Linked DNA regions of Homo sapiens. Each later gene encodes a partner of the first gene's protein in a complex. Each region holds a gene or a part of one and is shown in the gene's direction. Other genes may lie near its edges.

Region 1 (7,609 bases):
TCCAGCTCACTCAGTCTCAGGGAGCCCCAGGGTTTCAGCACATCCTTCTAGAGTCTTTCCAGCTGCACCCATGAGGCTGGGGCCAGGTGAAGACAGAGAAGCATCCAGGAGCCCACATCTAAGGAGGCCCCCACTCCCAGCGCCATCCGAATGCAGGTAGGTCTTAAAAAGGAATGCCTCAGGGCCAGGCGCGGTGGCTCAAGCCTGTAATCCCAGCACTTCGGGAGGCTGAGATGGGAGGATGGCTTGAGCCCGTGAGTTCCAGACTAGCTTGGGCAATACGGCGAGACCCTGTCTCTACTAAAACCTTAAAAAGAAAAAAAAAAAAAAGCCAGGTCTGGTGGTGCAAGCCTGTAGTCCCAGTGACTCAGCTGAGGTGACTGGATCACTTGAGCCTGGGAGGCAGAGGCTGCAGCGAGCTGCAATCATAGCCCTGCACTCCAGCCTGGGCAACAGAGCGAGACCTTATCTAAAAAACAAAAAGTGCTTCCTTAAATTTTGCACCCAGGTGCCCCCTCTGGCCTCACCCTGATCCTGAGGCCTCCGTCTACCTGGGTTCGTTCTAACCTGCGTGACCATCATTCTAGCATTTGTCTGGCACAGGTCATGTGGCTGTGCCTTGTTCTCAGGCTCCTCAGCCAGCTGGGTGGCTCCTGGGGCTGTAATCTCACCATCTCAGATGTCGAGATTACTTTTCATACTTCCTTATCTTGTTAATAAAGATGGGACAAAATCATAGCTTGTAAAAAACTGGGATGATGGTGAACCCAGTTCTGAGGCTTCACTTTCTGCTTTTGTTTGGTTCTCCATGCTGTCAAATTCTCTGAAGAGGCTGTTGCCCTCCTGAGTCAGCTGCAGCCCAGCAAGGCCCTAGAAGAGCCTCTGCTGGTGGACAGAGGAGCTGCTGCATGCAGACGAGGAAGCTGGGCTGAGGGCCGGCACCAGGGCACGGGGCAGGGAGGCTGCGGGTCCCGGGTCTCATGGGTCTCAGTTCTATGGAGGTGCCTGTCAGTCCAGGTATTCAGTCCCCCAACCCCGTCTTTGGGTCTCAGTGGTACTGGATCCAGGTGTACCTTTGGGAGAAGCTGTTGAGAAGCTGGCTGAGGGAGGACCACCCACGTGCACGCCCATGCTCTTATGTGGATCCCCGGGATCATAACCTTGTGGCTGACACATTTCCTCTCCAAGGCTGTGCTGTCCTCCACGACTTGCTGGGTCCCCTCAAGGCCCTTGCCTGTGTGGGTGGGGTGCTCATGGGAATGAGGGTCTTGGGAGGGGGGGGTGGGAAATCAAACAACACAGGGATGGGGTAGCTGCCACAGTCCCCACCAATGGGGTCTCCTGGGCAGTGACCCGGCATTCTGCCTCCAGTGGCTGCAGTGGGAGTCCTGATCTCAGGCCAGGGAGGGGACGTGCAATGGTGGTCCAGACCTGGTCCCATTCCTGGCCAGGCTCAGTAAAGTTACTGGCCAGTTTCTGGGCCTCGGTCTCCCCCAGGTTATTCAGCCTTGAGAGTTAGTCACCATGCCTGTGATTCTGCCTCATCTTCTTGTGTCAAATAGGGAGGGTTTTTCTTGGCAGAATGGTGGTAAGACTCTGAGCCAGAAGGAGACTCTCCCAGAGAAGGCAGCAGAGAGCAAGAGCACCAGGGCCTTCTCAAGGCCTCCGAGAGCCAGCTGGGCCTGGGCAGTAGATTTGTGGGAGGGTGCCCTGTTGGGACTCTGCTGACAGGGAGTCCTCAGGGCTTGTGTGAGTGCTCTCAAAGTCACAGGATGGGATGATCACCTCCTTTCTCCAGGCCAGGCAGCCAGCGCCGGAAAGCTCTGCAGCCCCCTGCGCGGCCTGGAGAAGGGCTTCCTTCCAGTTTTAAGTCAGTGTTTCTGTCTCATTGCCATGCTCGCCCCCAGTGCTACGTCCTGCACCAACCATTGCCACTTCATACTGACCAGGTGGAACCAAACACTCACATTCCAGTTGGCTCCCCATCCCTCCCCAGGGAGAACAGATCCACAGGTGGTGCACCTGTGAGTGGAGTGGAGGCTGGCCACGGGCCTCATCACACCTGCCTTCCTTGCTCAAAAGCCCTGCCCAGAACATGCCTCGGTCCCAAAAAAGGGTACACTGGGCCCTAACCCACATGCCTCATAATCTTTAAGCAGAAACAGCAAGCAGATTACGGGACAGGACAGATCACGCTAGTAGGATTAAGCTTAGAATATCCCAGATAATCGCGGATGCCCCTCCCCCAATGGGGGAGTTATTCCCCTTAACTTCTGAGGATTAAGGGGAATAAGAAAAAGAAGAAGGGCTGGGTGCAGTGGCTCACACCAGTAATCCCAGCACTTTGGGAGGCCAAGGCGGGTGGATAACTTGAGGTCAGGAGTTCCAGACCAGCCTGTCCAATGTGGTGAAACCCCGTCTCTACTAAAAATACAACAATCAGCCGGGTGTGGCAGCACGCACCTGTAGTCCTGGCTACTCGGGAGGCTGAGGCAGAATTGCTTGAACCCGGGAGGTGGAGGTCGCAGTGAGCCGAGATCGCACCACTGCACTCCAACCTGGGTGACAGAGCAAGACTCGGTCTAAAAAAAAAAAAAAGAAAAAAGAAAAAGACGGATAAAAGAAGACAGAAACATGGGAGTATTTCCTTTGCACAAGAATCCAAGGTCTAGAATGAAGAGATGGTGAAATGAAGCCAGCCTCCAGGAAGGTGCACTGTGCCTTAATGGGACCTGGGGATGGGAAGGCCAACACAGAGGTGTCAGCGGGACAAACACAAAGTGTTTCTAACAAGAGCAAAGATTTCCAGTCTTCTCTTTATTTCCAAACACTCTGTAGGTAAAGCAGAGCCTCAGTAAACCCAAGAAGCAGAAAACCTGGCCTCCTGCCTGGGGCAGCTTCAGTTTAGACTTTTCTTCATTCCTAACAGCATAAAGAGGCTGTGCAAATGGGAGGCACTCAGCAGAGCCTGAAGAACTCTGGGGTCTTAGCTCCTGGGAGGCCACACATGCTTGGTGGCACCCTGCCGGTCACGGTGCCTCCAAAAGCTCCCAATGATCAGTGGCCTTTCTTTTTTTTCTTTTTTTTCTTAGACAGGGTCTCACTCTTTGCCAGGCTGCAGTGGCGGGATCTTGGTTCAGTGCAACCTCTGCCTCCCAGGTCCAGGGAGTCCTCCTATCTCAGCCTCCCAAGTAGCTAAGACCACAGGCAAGCACCACCACGCCCGGCAAATTTTTTGTATTTTTAGTAGAGCTGGGGTTTTGCCATATTGTCCGGGCTGGTCTCGAACTCCTGGCCTCAAGTGATCCACCCGCCTCCGCCTCCCAAAGTGCTGGGATTACAAGCAAGAGTCACCCCACTCGGCCAGTGTGGCCCTTCTTCAGGTCATCACTTGCCAGCCGCAGGCGGTGGCTCTGCCCCTCACCGGACACGACGTCACAGCCGGGATGTGAACAGCAGATTCTGATCTCCAACTCCAGACAATCACTGATTTACTTCTGCAAACCGGAGCTGTCCGGTCTTGCAGGGTCGGACCATGTAAACAAGCCTGCTGCCAGGCAACTGAAGACAGAAACACGAATAAAGATGCCCCATAAGGAATGAAAAACAAAACTCCTCTTGGGAAACCCAGATTTGGGATTCGGAAACGGGCTTGAGATCAACCTGAAGCTTCATGACGTCTTACTGTTTCCACTGCCTTTCCTGTTCCACTACAGCAACGCCCTCCACTTCACGTGCCAAGTCCTGACTTTCTCCTAATAGTTGCCGACCCAGCACCCCGTAGGCTGTCCCCTGGGGACGCCGATGTCCTCTGGGGCATAGCGTCCGCTGGCGAAGCCGGGTGCTTGCCCTAAGCGCGGACACTTCCGCAACCGCCCAACAGTTAGCAGAAGCCCAATACAAGAGACGCCCCATTCTCCCCATCCCAGGGAAACTTCGCTGGGGCAGGGGTTGAACCGAGTGTGGGTCTCGTAGCCGCTTTCCCAACTTAAGGCTCTGGGTCTGAGCAGGCTCGGGACCCGCCGCCCTTCTCTGGCGGGGGCAGGGCAGGCTCACCGCGCGTAAGCTGAAGTGCGGCAGGGCCCCTCCCCGCAGCCCTCCCGCGCCGTCCGCCGCGGCCCTGCTCCCTCCCGGTCCCCACGGGCCCCGCGCCCGCGCGCTGCCCTCACCGGGCTCCAGCAGATGAGCGCGTCGGTGTCCGGGTCGCTCACGAGGGTCCACAGCTTGGTCAGGAAGGCCGGGACGTTGCTGGGCCCCGCCGCGCCGGGGCCCACGGGCAGATCCATCTCGAGCAAGGAGGGAATAGGCGGAGGGAGCGGCCGCAAAGAGGGGCCGAGGGCCGGGCTAACGCCGTCGCCGCGCCAGCCTTCCGGGCCGCGCCGCCGCCCGCTGCGCACACACAGCCCCGGGGCCCAGCATGGCCGCCGCCATCTTGCAACGGGCGCGCTCCCGCCGCCGCCGCTGCCGCCCTCCCGCGTCACCCCCGGCGCGAGCACGCAGGCCCCGACCCCGCCCTGGTCCCCGGCCCAGCCGCGCGCCTGCGCGTGTTGGTCCCACCCCCTTCCCTCCACCCGCCAATCGGGGCCGGGCTGGGCGGGGCGCGTCCTCCTGCGCACGCGGCCCGGTCGCTGTCGGAAGCGGCTGTGCGGGTGGCGGCCGGCGCGCGGTGGGGCATGGCGGGTTCGCGGGGTGCGGGGCGCACGGCGGCGCCGAGCGTGCGGCCGGAGAAGCGGCGGTCTGAGCCCGAACTGGAGCCTGAGCCCGAGCCGGAGGTGACTGTGGCGATGCGGGGCGGCGGGGCGCGTCCCTAGAGGGCCCGGCGGGCACGTGGCCGCGCTGGGGCGGGTGGGCCCGGCTTCTGTCACCTGGGCGCCCGCGCCCAGTGAATCGGTCTTGGGCGTGGGTGCAGCTCCTCTATCGGGGGGTCTCAGGCAGAGCGGACTGCGGGGTAAAGGACGGCGTCCGGGAAGCAAAGAAACGGGGGAGCGGGGAGTGGGGACGGGGCGCCCCTTGCAGCAGCCTCTCCAGCCGTTCCATTTGTGCATCCTGCCAATAAAAGGGCTCGGCTTGCGCTCCCAGTAAATGCTTAACCTACGTATACGCTAGTTAATTGCGTTTTTATGCTCATGGGATAGACATGAGAATAAGAAAACCTGAATAGAACCCAGTGTCTGCTGCATTTGCTGTATTAGAACTCACTGTTGCTCTCTGCTAGCTCAGCCCTGTCTTGGTTGTGGGGATCATCAAATTGGGTGGTGGAGGGGATGGACAGCCAGCCCCTCACAGCCCCCTCGGCCGCGGCCGCGCTGGGTTGTTGAAACTGCCCCATTGCTTTGTGAAGCGAATTCAACTCATCCTGGCTCCCATGGGCTGAATGGCCCGCAGGCCACTCTAGGCGCCAGGTTCTGCGACTTCCACCCTTGGACTAAACGGTCCTCAGGAGCCAGTTGTTTGCGCCCAGGCCACGGATGCCATTTCCACTAGTTATTGTGATTGTGTAGCCGACTGAATACCAAGACACATCATGACTCTGTGTGAGAGAGGCATTGTGTGAACACTCGGTATGCAATAGCTAATACATGCAGGTCGTACCTTAAGTGAGACTTGTAAACTATTAGGAAAACAGTAAAATCTAGAATTCTGCATTCAACTGCTTCCTTTTTCTTTTCTTTTCCTTTTCTTTCTTTTTTCTTTTTTTTTTTTTTGAGACAGAGCCTGGCTCTGTTGCCCAGGCTAGAGTGCAGTGGTGCAGTCTTGGCTCACTGCAGCTTCCACCTCCTGGCTAACTCAGCCTCCTGAGTAGCTGGGATTAGAGGTGCCCGCCACCACCAGCTAATTTTTGTATTTTTAGTAGAGATGGTTTCACCATGTTGGCCAGGCTGGTCTTGAACTCCTGACCTCAGGTGATCCACCCGCCTCAGCCTCCCAAAGTGTTGGGATTACAGGAGTGAGCCACTGTGCCTGGCCTTCAACTGCTTCCTAAGAGTCTAAGTTCTTGTTCCACCCTTTAAGGCCAGTGAAGGACCCGAACACTGTGTGTGCCGGTGTCACGCAGCCAGCAGGGCTCTGCTCAGAGGCAGCTGTGGTCCTGCTCAGAGAGAGGAGTGGGTGGGTTGGTGCGTGGTTGCGGTTAGAGTCTCTATCATTCCTGTGACTCTTCAGCCAATCCTTTCAATTTACTGATCAATCGTTGGTCCCAATCTGGTTAAATGAGGAGGCGTCTGCTTCAGGTGGTAAAAGCCCTTTGGGGACCCATTTCTCTTCCAGCCCCCAGCCCCTTTTCTAGTGACCTCTTGGCTCTGGGGCCTTGGATGCCAGGGTGAGGTGTGGAGAGGGCTCAGGCAGGCTGTCTGAGGGACCCAGTGGAGTCCAGCCCAGCCTGACCCCACAGGGCCTCCGGAGTGTCAGTGGGTGGTAGAGAGCAGTGTTAGTTTTGCGATGAGAGCTGAGCTCCAAGAGGAGGAGGTTGTCCTTGAAAAGCCCCTTCCCTGTGAGGTGCTAGGAATTAAAATGTCGATGGCAAAGGCAAGAGGCTGTCTTGTCAGTGGAGGTAGAAGATGAGGAAGGCTCAGGTTGGGTGGATGCTTTTGGTGGAAGTTTGTGACTGGAGGGGTGTGGTCCTGGAGGCCACATGGAGCTGCTGGTGGGTGGCTGGAGGGGCGAGAGGCAGCTCTCCCTGCAGTGTTCAGTGCCCCATGCCTGGAGGGGCAGTTGTCACCAACCCAGTGTTTCCTTGCAGCCCCCCCTCCTCTGCACCTCTCCTCTCAGCCACAGCACCGGCAGCGATTCTGGCGTCTCCGACAGCGAGGAAAGTGTGTTCTCAGGCCTGGAAGATTCCGGCAGTGACAGCAGTGAGGATGATGACGAAGGCGACGAGGAGGGAGAGGACGGAGCCCTTGATGACGAGGGCCACAGTGGGATTAAAAAGACCACTGAGGAGCAGGTGCAGGTGGGTGAGCGAGGAGCCCCCTCGAGGGCTGTCCCCCATGTGCAGGTGGCCTTGGGCTTTCTGAGACTGCCACTGTACTGCCTTCTCCACCGTCCCTCAGAACCCCAAGGCCGGCGTCCCTCCTTCACTGCACCTGGGGCACGCTTGGGCTCTAGGACGCTGGTTTCCATCCCCAGTTGCGTGCCGTTCCCAGGAACTCTGAAAATCCACATGCCTAGGCCCTTCCCCGTCAGACGATGCTCGGGCAACCCTCCTGGCAACAGGTTGGGTTTCCTTGAGGTGGGGATTTTACTGCTTGGAATCCAGTGGCAGGACCCAGCTGAGGAGGGAGCTGAGCAGCATGGCAGGGCTCAAGCAGGCGGCATGGGGGCCCCAACGGAACCCAGCTGGGCCTGACCCCACAGGGCTTCAGGGGCCTGAGCAGCCGACGGGTAGAGGGTTTAACATTGTACCTGTTGCAGCGATGGTGGGGGAGGATGCACCCTACTCTTATTGAGAACAACAGGAGAAAAGCATAATTTAACTAAAACACAGCATTTGTTATTTTTTTTTATTTTTTATTTTTTTGAGACAGAGTCTCACTCTGTCGCCCAGGCTGGAGTGCAGTGGTGTGATCTTGGCTCACTGCAACCTCCATCCCCTGGGTTCAAGTAATTCTCC
Region 2 (5,814 bases), on another chromosome or scaffold:
GGGGGTCTGGCACTGACTTCCAGGATGCGTCTAACCCTTGGGACCCCTATCCAGAGCCTCACTTGTGGCTGGGAACACTTGTGGCCGGAACGCCCCTGGTGGGAAGATCCATGCCACCCCTTCCCTAGGGCAGCGCCTTAAGGGCAGAGCCTTCTTGAGGAGCTTGGGGTCTTTGGGTAGGTCAGACACCCTCCACTCTGTGGGTTGTCTGTCCCTCCTTTGCCCCCATCCCTGCACCCACACTGCTCATGCATCTCTTGTGTTCCCCAGCACCCGACAGACGTGGACTACAGGGTCATGGCCACCTTCACCGAGTTCTACACCACGCTGCTGGGCTTTGTCAACTTCCGCCTTTACCAGTTGCTCAACCTCCACTATCCCCCGAAGGTAGGACCCCAGCCCAGTGCCTTCTGCTCGCCGTGCAGGGGCCACAGCCCTTCTCTGTCCACACAGAGGCGAGGGGCTGTGGCTGTCCTCTGCCTCCTGACCTTCCCTTTGCCTACTAGCTCGAGGGTCAGGCCCAAGCAGAGGCAAAGGCCGGTGAGGGCACCTACGCGTTGGACTCCGAGAGTTGTATGGAGGTGAGAGGCTCCAGGAGCATCATCCGGCATCTCCCAAGGGAGTGGTCTCTGTCCCCAACACCTCTGGGGGTCTGGTTCAGAGTGGGGGTGGTTATGGCTAGGTGGGTGGTCTCAGCCTGCCCTTGGAACCCACACCTGCTGATGCCCAGGACTGTCACTGCTGCCCCTCCCCACCCTGGCCACATGCCCGCATGAGGTCCCCCACTGCAAGCAGCCCCCTTCTCTCCTGTAGAAACTGGCAGCCCTCAGTGCCAGCCTGGCCCGCGTGGTGGTGCCTGCCACAGAGGAGGAGGCCGAGGTGGATGAGTTTCCCACCGATGGGGTGAGCACTGCACTGCCTTCTGGCAGGAGGGCTGGGAGGGGTCGTGTGGGGGGTTTCCCAGCTTAGGGACATTTGCATCCTATAATTAGGTGTTATTTGATGGTCAAAGCAACTGAGCAGAAGAATGGGCTGAATTGTCATCAGAGTTTACATAGGAGGCAACAGAGCTCAGGAGTGGGGCCTTGGAGTTTCCTTTGAAGGCAGGATCCAGGATCTAGAAGGAAGCTGGAGTGGACGTTATCTCCAGCCCTGGCCCTCCAGTGGGGGTGGGCAGCCCTGGTGGTGCGAGGCCTGGCCCCTTTCTCAACAGGAGATGTCAGCGCAGGAGGAAGACCGCAGGAAGGAGCTGGAGGCGCAGGAGAAGCACAAGAAGCTTTTTGAGGGCCTGAAGTTCTTCCTGAACCGAGAGGTGCCCCGTGAGGCCCTGGCCTTCATCATCAGGTAGGGAGGCTCAAGGGCCCGCTGACAGCATTGGTTCGGCCATGCTCTGGTCTGGGTCCTGCCCTGGTGCCCATCGGTAACATTGGGATGGTGTCAGTTTCCACTTCTTATGAAACAGTGTGTGGAAAGTGCTCGGCACCGCACTGAGCACATAGGAAGTGCTCAGCAGAGGGCGGAACTGCCGTCATTTTATTACTAGCTTAGCACAGAAGGATGGGCAGTGGGCAGATCTCTGCTGAGCCAGGATTGAAGGATCCTGGGGTGAGGAGGGGGTAATTGTGTCCTAAGAGGGTGAGTTTATGGGCTGGGTGGCCAGCAGGTCCCAGGGAGCTGAGTCTCAGGACAGGCAGCTCATGTCTGTGTACCCGTGTGGGCTCTCCCTGTCCCTGTAGGAGTTTTGGTGGGGAAGTGTCCTGGGACAAATCTTTGTGCATTGGGGCCACCTATGACGTCACAGACTCCCGCATCACCCATCAGATTGTCGACCGGCCTGGGCAGCAGACCTCAGTCATTGGCAGGTAGGCCCTCAAGGGTCCTCGTCCGGATTTCTGGGTATCCTGTCTCAAAGGCCCTGCGATGCAGCAGGACCCTGAGTTGCCCTCTGTGACTCGTTTTTGCCTGCCACTCTGCGCCAGGTGCTACGTGCAGCCCCAGTGGGTGTTTGACTCAGTGAACGCCAGGCTCCTTCTCCCCGTGGCAGAGTACTTCTCTGGGGTGCAGCTGCCCCCACACCTTTCACCCTTTGTGACCGAGAAGGAAGGAGATTACGTTCCACCTGAGAAGCTGAAGCTGCTGGCTCTGCAGCGGGGAGAGGACCCAGGTGAGCGGGATGGGACTGGGCTGGCCTTGACCCCTGGGCCCACGCTGGCTGTTTCCCTTAGCTGCCAAGGTGGAAAGCTCCAGGGAACAGGCAGTAGGAGCAGAAAGCCCTTTGAAGTCACCTGTAGAATAAGGCTTAGGAGAAGGGACATCTACCTCCTGGGGTCAGGTGTTATTTGACGTTCAGGATGACTGAGCAGAAGAACATGCTGCATTGTCATCAGAGTTTACATTGGAGGCGACAGAGCTCAGGACTGGGGGTCTTGGAATTTCCTCTGATGGCAGCTGGGCTGTGGGGAGGTGCAAGAGAGGGCCACAATTGGGACATCCCTGAACTGCCCATGGCTAAAGACGGCAGGGTCAGAGAGGATGGGGCCTGGGCCTGTTGTCACCCTGCCAGAGAGACAGTAGATTCCCAGGGCATTCAGAGGACATTGGCTTTCTCTAGGAAACCTGAATGAGTCAGAAGAGGAGGAGGAAGAGGACGACAACAACGAAGGTGATGGTGATGAAGAGGGAGAAAATGAGGAGGAGGAGGAAGATGCAGAGGCTGGTTCAGAAAAGGAGGAAGAGGCCCGGCTGGCAGCCCTGGAAGAGCAGAGGATGGAGGGGAAGGTAGGGGGAGCTGCAATGCGGGGCTTGGCCTGGGAAGCAGCCCTGCTTGGTGCCTGCTCTGGCCTAGAAGGTCAGGAGCCAGAGGACTGTGGAGGTCGGGAGAACCTGCCCCCATAAGCACCCTCCTTGTGTCCCCAGAAGCCCAGGGTGATGGCAGGCACCTTGAAGCTGGAGGATAAGCAGCGGCTGGCCCAGGAGGAGGAGAGTGAGGCCAAGCGCCTGGCCATTATGATGATGAAGAAGCGGGAGAAGTACCTGTACCAGAAGATCATGTTTGGCAAGAGGCGAAAAATCCGAGAGGTGAGTTCTTGCCACCCACTTGAGATCCAGGTGTGGCCACCAGACCCAACTGCACAGGTGAACTTATGTGGCTTGGGGCCCTCCTCTAGGCAGACTGAGGCTCTCCTAGCCTTTTCCTGAGGTTGCCTGCCTGGCCCAGCCCAGCCTTTGGGGCCCCCGACCTGGGCCAGTGTAGGCGTCTTGGTACTGCCATCTCCGGCCTGGGCTTTCCTTACGGCTTCCGTCCCACCCCGCATCCGGCTTCCTGAGTCTGCTGGGGTCTGCAAACAGAGCCTTCCCGGCAGACTCAAGGACTGGGGGCGGGGGTGGCGGGGGGGAGCTTTGTTAAACTTCTATCTGTTTTGTATTTTCTTGTTCATGAAGCCATATATGCTAATTAAAAATACAAACTCATGCACCCTGGAACCCTGTGATGAGTGATGCAGAAGTGGCTCACAGCCCTGCCCTTGGAATAGAGCAGCCTGTAGTAACAGCCCCCAGGTTTCTCTTGTGCCCATAATGACCCGTGTTTGGGAGGTCATGCTATAGGTTGTTTTGAGATATAATTTGTTTTTTGAGACAGAGTCTTCCTCTGTCACCCAGGCTAGAGTGCAGTGGAGCAATCTCTGCTCACTGCAAACTGTGTCTCACAGGTTCAAGCAATCCTCCTGCCTCAGCCTCCCGAGTAGCTGGGATTAGGGCGTGTGCCACCACACCTGGCTAATTTCTGTATTTTTAGTAGAGACGGGGTTTTACTGTCTTGGCCAGGCTGGTCTTGGACTCCTGACCTCAAGTGATCTGCCTGCCTTGGCCTCCTAAAGTGTTGGGGTTAGAGGCATGAGCCACTGTACCCAGCCTGAGTTGTAATTTTCATTTAACCATAATATGGACTTCTCATCCAAAACCTGGCCTGTCCCCTGTGATGGGATTAGATTGTTCTCCAGTTTCAGTCATTCTCAGAAAACATCCCTGAGCATGTTCCTGCCCGCCTCTTAATGATTCTGCAGGCTAAATTCTTAGAAGCATAATTGCTGCAGTTTTGAAATAGTTATTGTCAAATGGGTCTGGGCATGGTGGCTCACGCCTGTAATCCCAGCACTTTGGGATACCAAGACAGGAGGATCACTTGAGGCTAGGAGTTCAAGACCAGCGTTGGCAACATATTGAGACCCTGTCTCTACCCCCCAAAAAAAAAAAGAAAGGGCTACGCATGGTGGTGCACACCTGTAGTCAATCCCAGCTACTCCGGAGGCTGAAGTGGGAGGATCGTTTGAGGCTGCAGTGAGCTATGATTGTGCCACTGTGCTCCAGGCTGAGCAACAGAGAAAGACCCTGTCCCTTTAAAAAAATTAAAAATATATTGTCAGATGACCCCGGAAAGAAGGTTCTTCCTGTTGTACCCCTTTCCACCAGCTCCTGGTGAAGGTTCTAGTGGCATCCAGCTTTCCCAGGTGGTGTAGGGAAATGGGGCAGTTGCCAAGGCTCCTTCCAGCTCTGGGAGTTTAGGATTCTCTTATCTCGAGATTTGTGGGCCCATGAAATAATGTTGTTAAAGCAGGGCTAGCGCATGTTTTCTCACCATGAAGTGGGTCAGGTAGATTTTTTTCCTGTGAGAATTTGTGACCTTTTCTTGAAGCTCTGCTTTTAAGGGATATAGCTTTGAGTTCTGTGCCCCCCACCCTCCCTTCTACACATACCTCAGCCTGACCTTCGCCTTCCCCCTCACAGGCCAACAAGCTGGCGGAGAAGCGGAAAGCCCACGATGAGGCGGTGAGGTCTGAGAAGAAGGCCAAGAAGGCAAGGCCGGAGTGAGTGCCTGCGGCCCCTCACAGGGCTGAGGCCAGCCCCTAGCAGCTGGATGTGGCAGAGGCAGGCCAGAGGACCTAAGTGTGATGGACCAGAGTCACTTCTCCTCCTCCTTTCTCCAGCCAGCCCTGACCCCTCATGCTCTCTGGCTGGGCCAGTGGGCAGCCCTCGCTTCCCTTGGATGGAGCTGCCCTGCTGGTGCCTGGTCAGAGAAGAGGCCTCTGTGCCCAGCCTGATTCTCTGCTCCCAGGAGCCAGTGACATGAGGTGCAGAGGCCCACCCAGCCCCCTACCTACTGCCCCCATTCATCCTGGCTTTCCACAGCCCCCTCCCACACAGTTGGACCCGTGATTCTCAGGGTGCTGTGATGGGGTGAGGGTAGGGGGAGCATTTGTTATTAAATGACTGGACTTTTGTGCCAATTGCATTTTGTGTCCATGAGCCTTCCTAGGGTTGGAGGAGGCCTACCTAGCACTCTATGCTGCAGGCTGGGCCAGCCCTGGGTATTTACTGAGACAGAGCTGGGCACTGCTCAGAGCTCTCTGGATGTCCAAGGACCCCTCCAGGTCCAGGGATGCCAAAAGGTAGGTGCAGAGGTTCTGGACCTGGGCTTCACAGCCTGTCTGACCATGGTTCACATTCTAACCCAGGCATTTTCCCTCTGCACCTGCTTCCTCATGTGTCAGTTACTGGTAGAGATTCTGTTCTTTGAAAGGGATGTGTTGAGGGTTCTGTGATAACTTTATAGTCTCAGACCTTATGGACTTGGTAATATCAGGTGTGTGGTAAGTACTTGGTAAACACCAACTGATTTATATCACTTCCTGCTGGACTCGGCCCAGAAGGTAAAAGCCAGAACCGGAAGGATCTGTGGGTCTGCGGTGAGGTCCTGCCCTCAGCTTGCCTTGGCGCGTTGGCAGAACCGCTGAGTACCTCCCAGCGTAGGATTCC

What was found. The genes of interacting proteins can lie anywhere in the genome.
Region 2: BOP1 (region 1) and PES1 share a complex: the UniProt entries of both Homo sapiens proteins name them as parts of the peBoW complex.

Annotation. Positions count from the first base shown.
Region 1 is NC_000008.11:144,288,435-144,296,043, reverse strand, and holds the start of BOP1 (ribosome biogenesis protein BOP1), read left to right. Parts: upstream 1-4,605; 5' UTR 4,606-4,673; coding exon 4,674-4,772; intron 4,773-6,739; coding exon 6,740-6,949; intron 6,950-7,609. Other genes in the region: HSF1 (heat shock factor protein 1), read right to left, coding at 4,170-4,286. UniProt on the Homo sapiens protein: Component of the PeBoW complex, which is required for maturation of 28S and 5.8S ribosomal RNAs and formation of the 60S ribosome.
Region 2 is NC_000022.11:30,576,101-30,581,914, reverse strand, and holds the end of PES1 (pescadillo homolog), read left to right. Parts: intron 1-270; coding exon 271-387; intron 388-506; coding exon 507-581; intron 582-813; coding exon 814-903; intron 904-1,213; coding exon 1,214-1,344; intron 1,345-1,736; coding exon 1,737-1,862; intron 1,863-1,979; coding exon 1,980-2,164; intron 2,165-2,611; coding exon 2,612-2,778; intron 2,779-2,916; coding exon 2,917-3,078; intron 3,079-4,785; coding exon 4,786-4,869; 3' UTR 4,870-5,290; downstream 5,291-5,814. UniProt on the Homo sapiens protein: Component of the PeBoW complex, which is required for maturation of 28S and 5.8S ribosomal RNAs and formation of the 60S ribosome.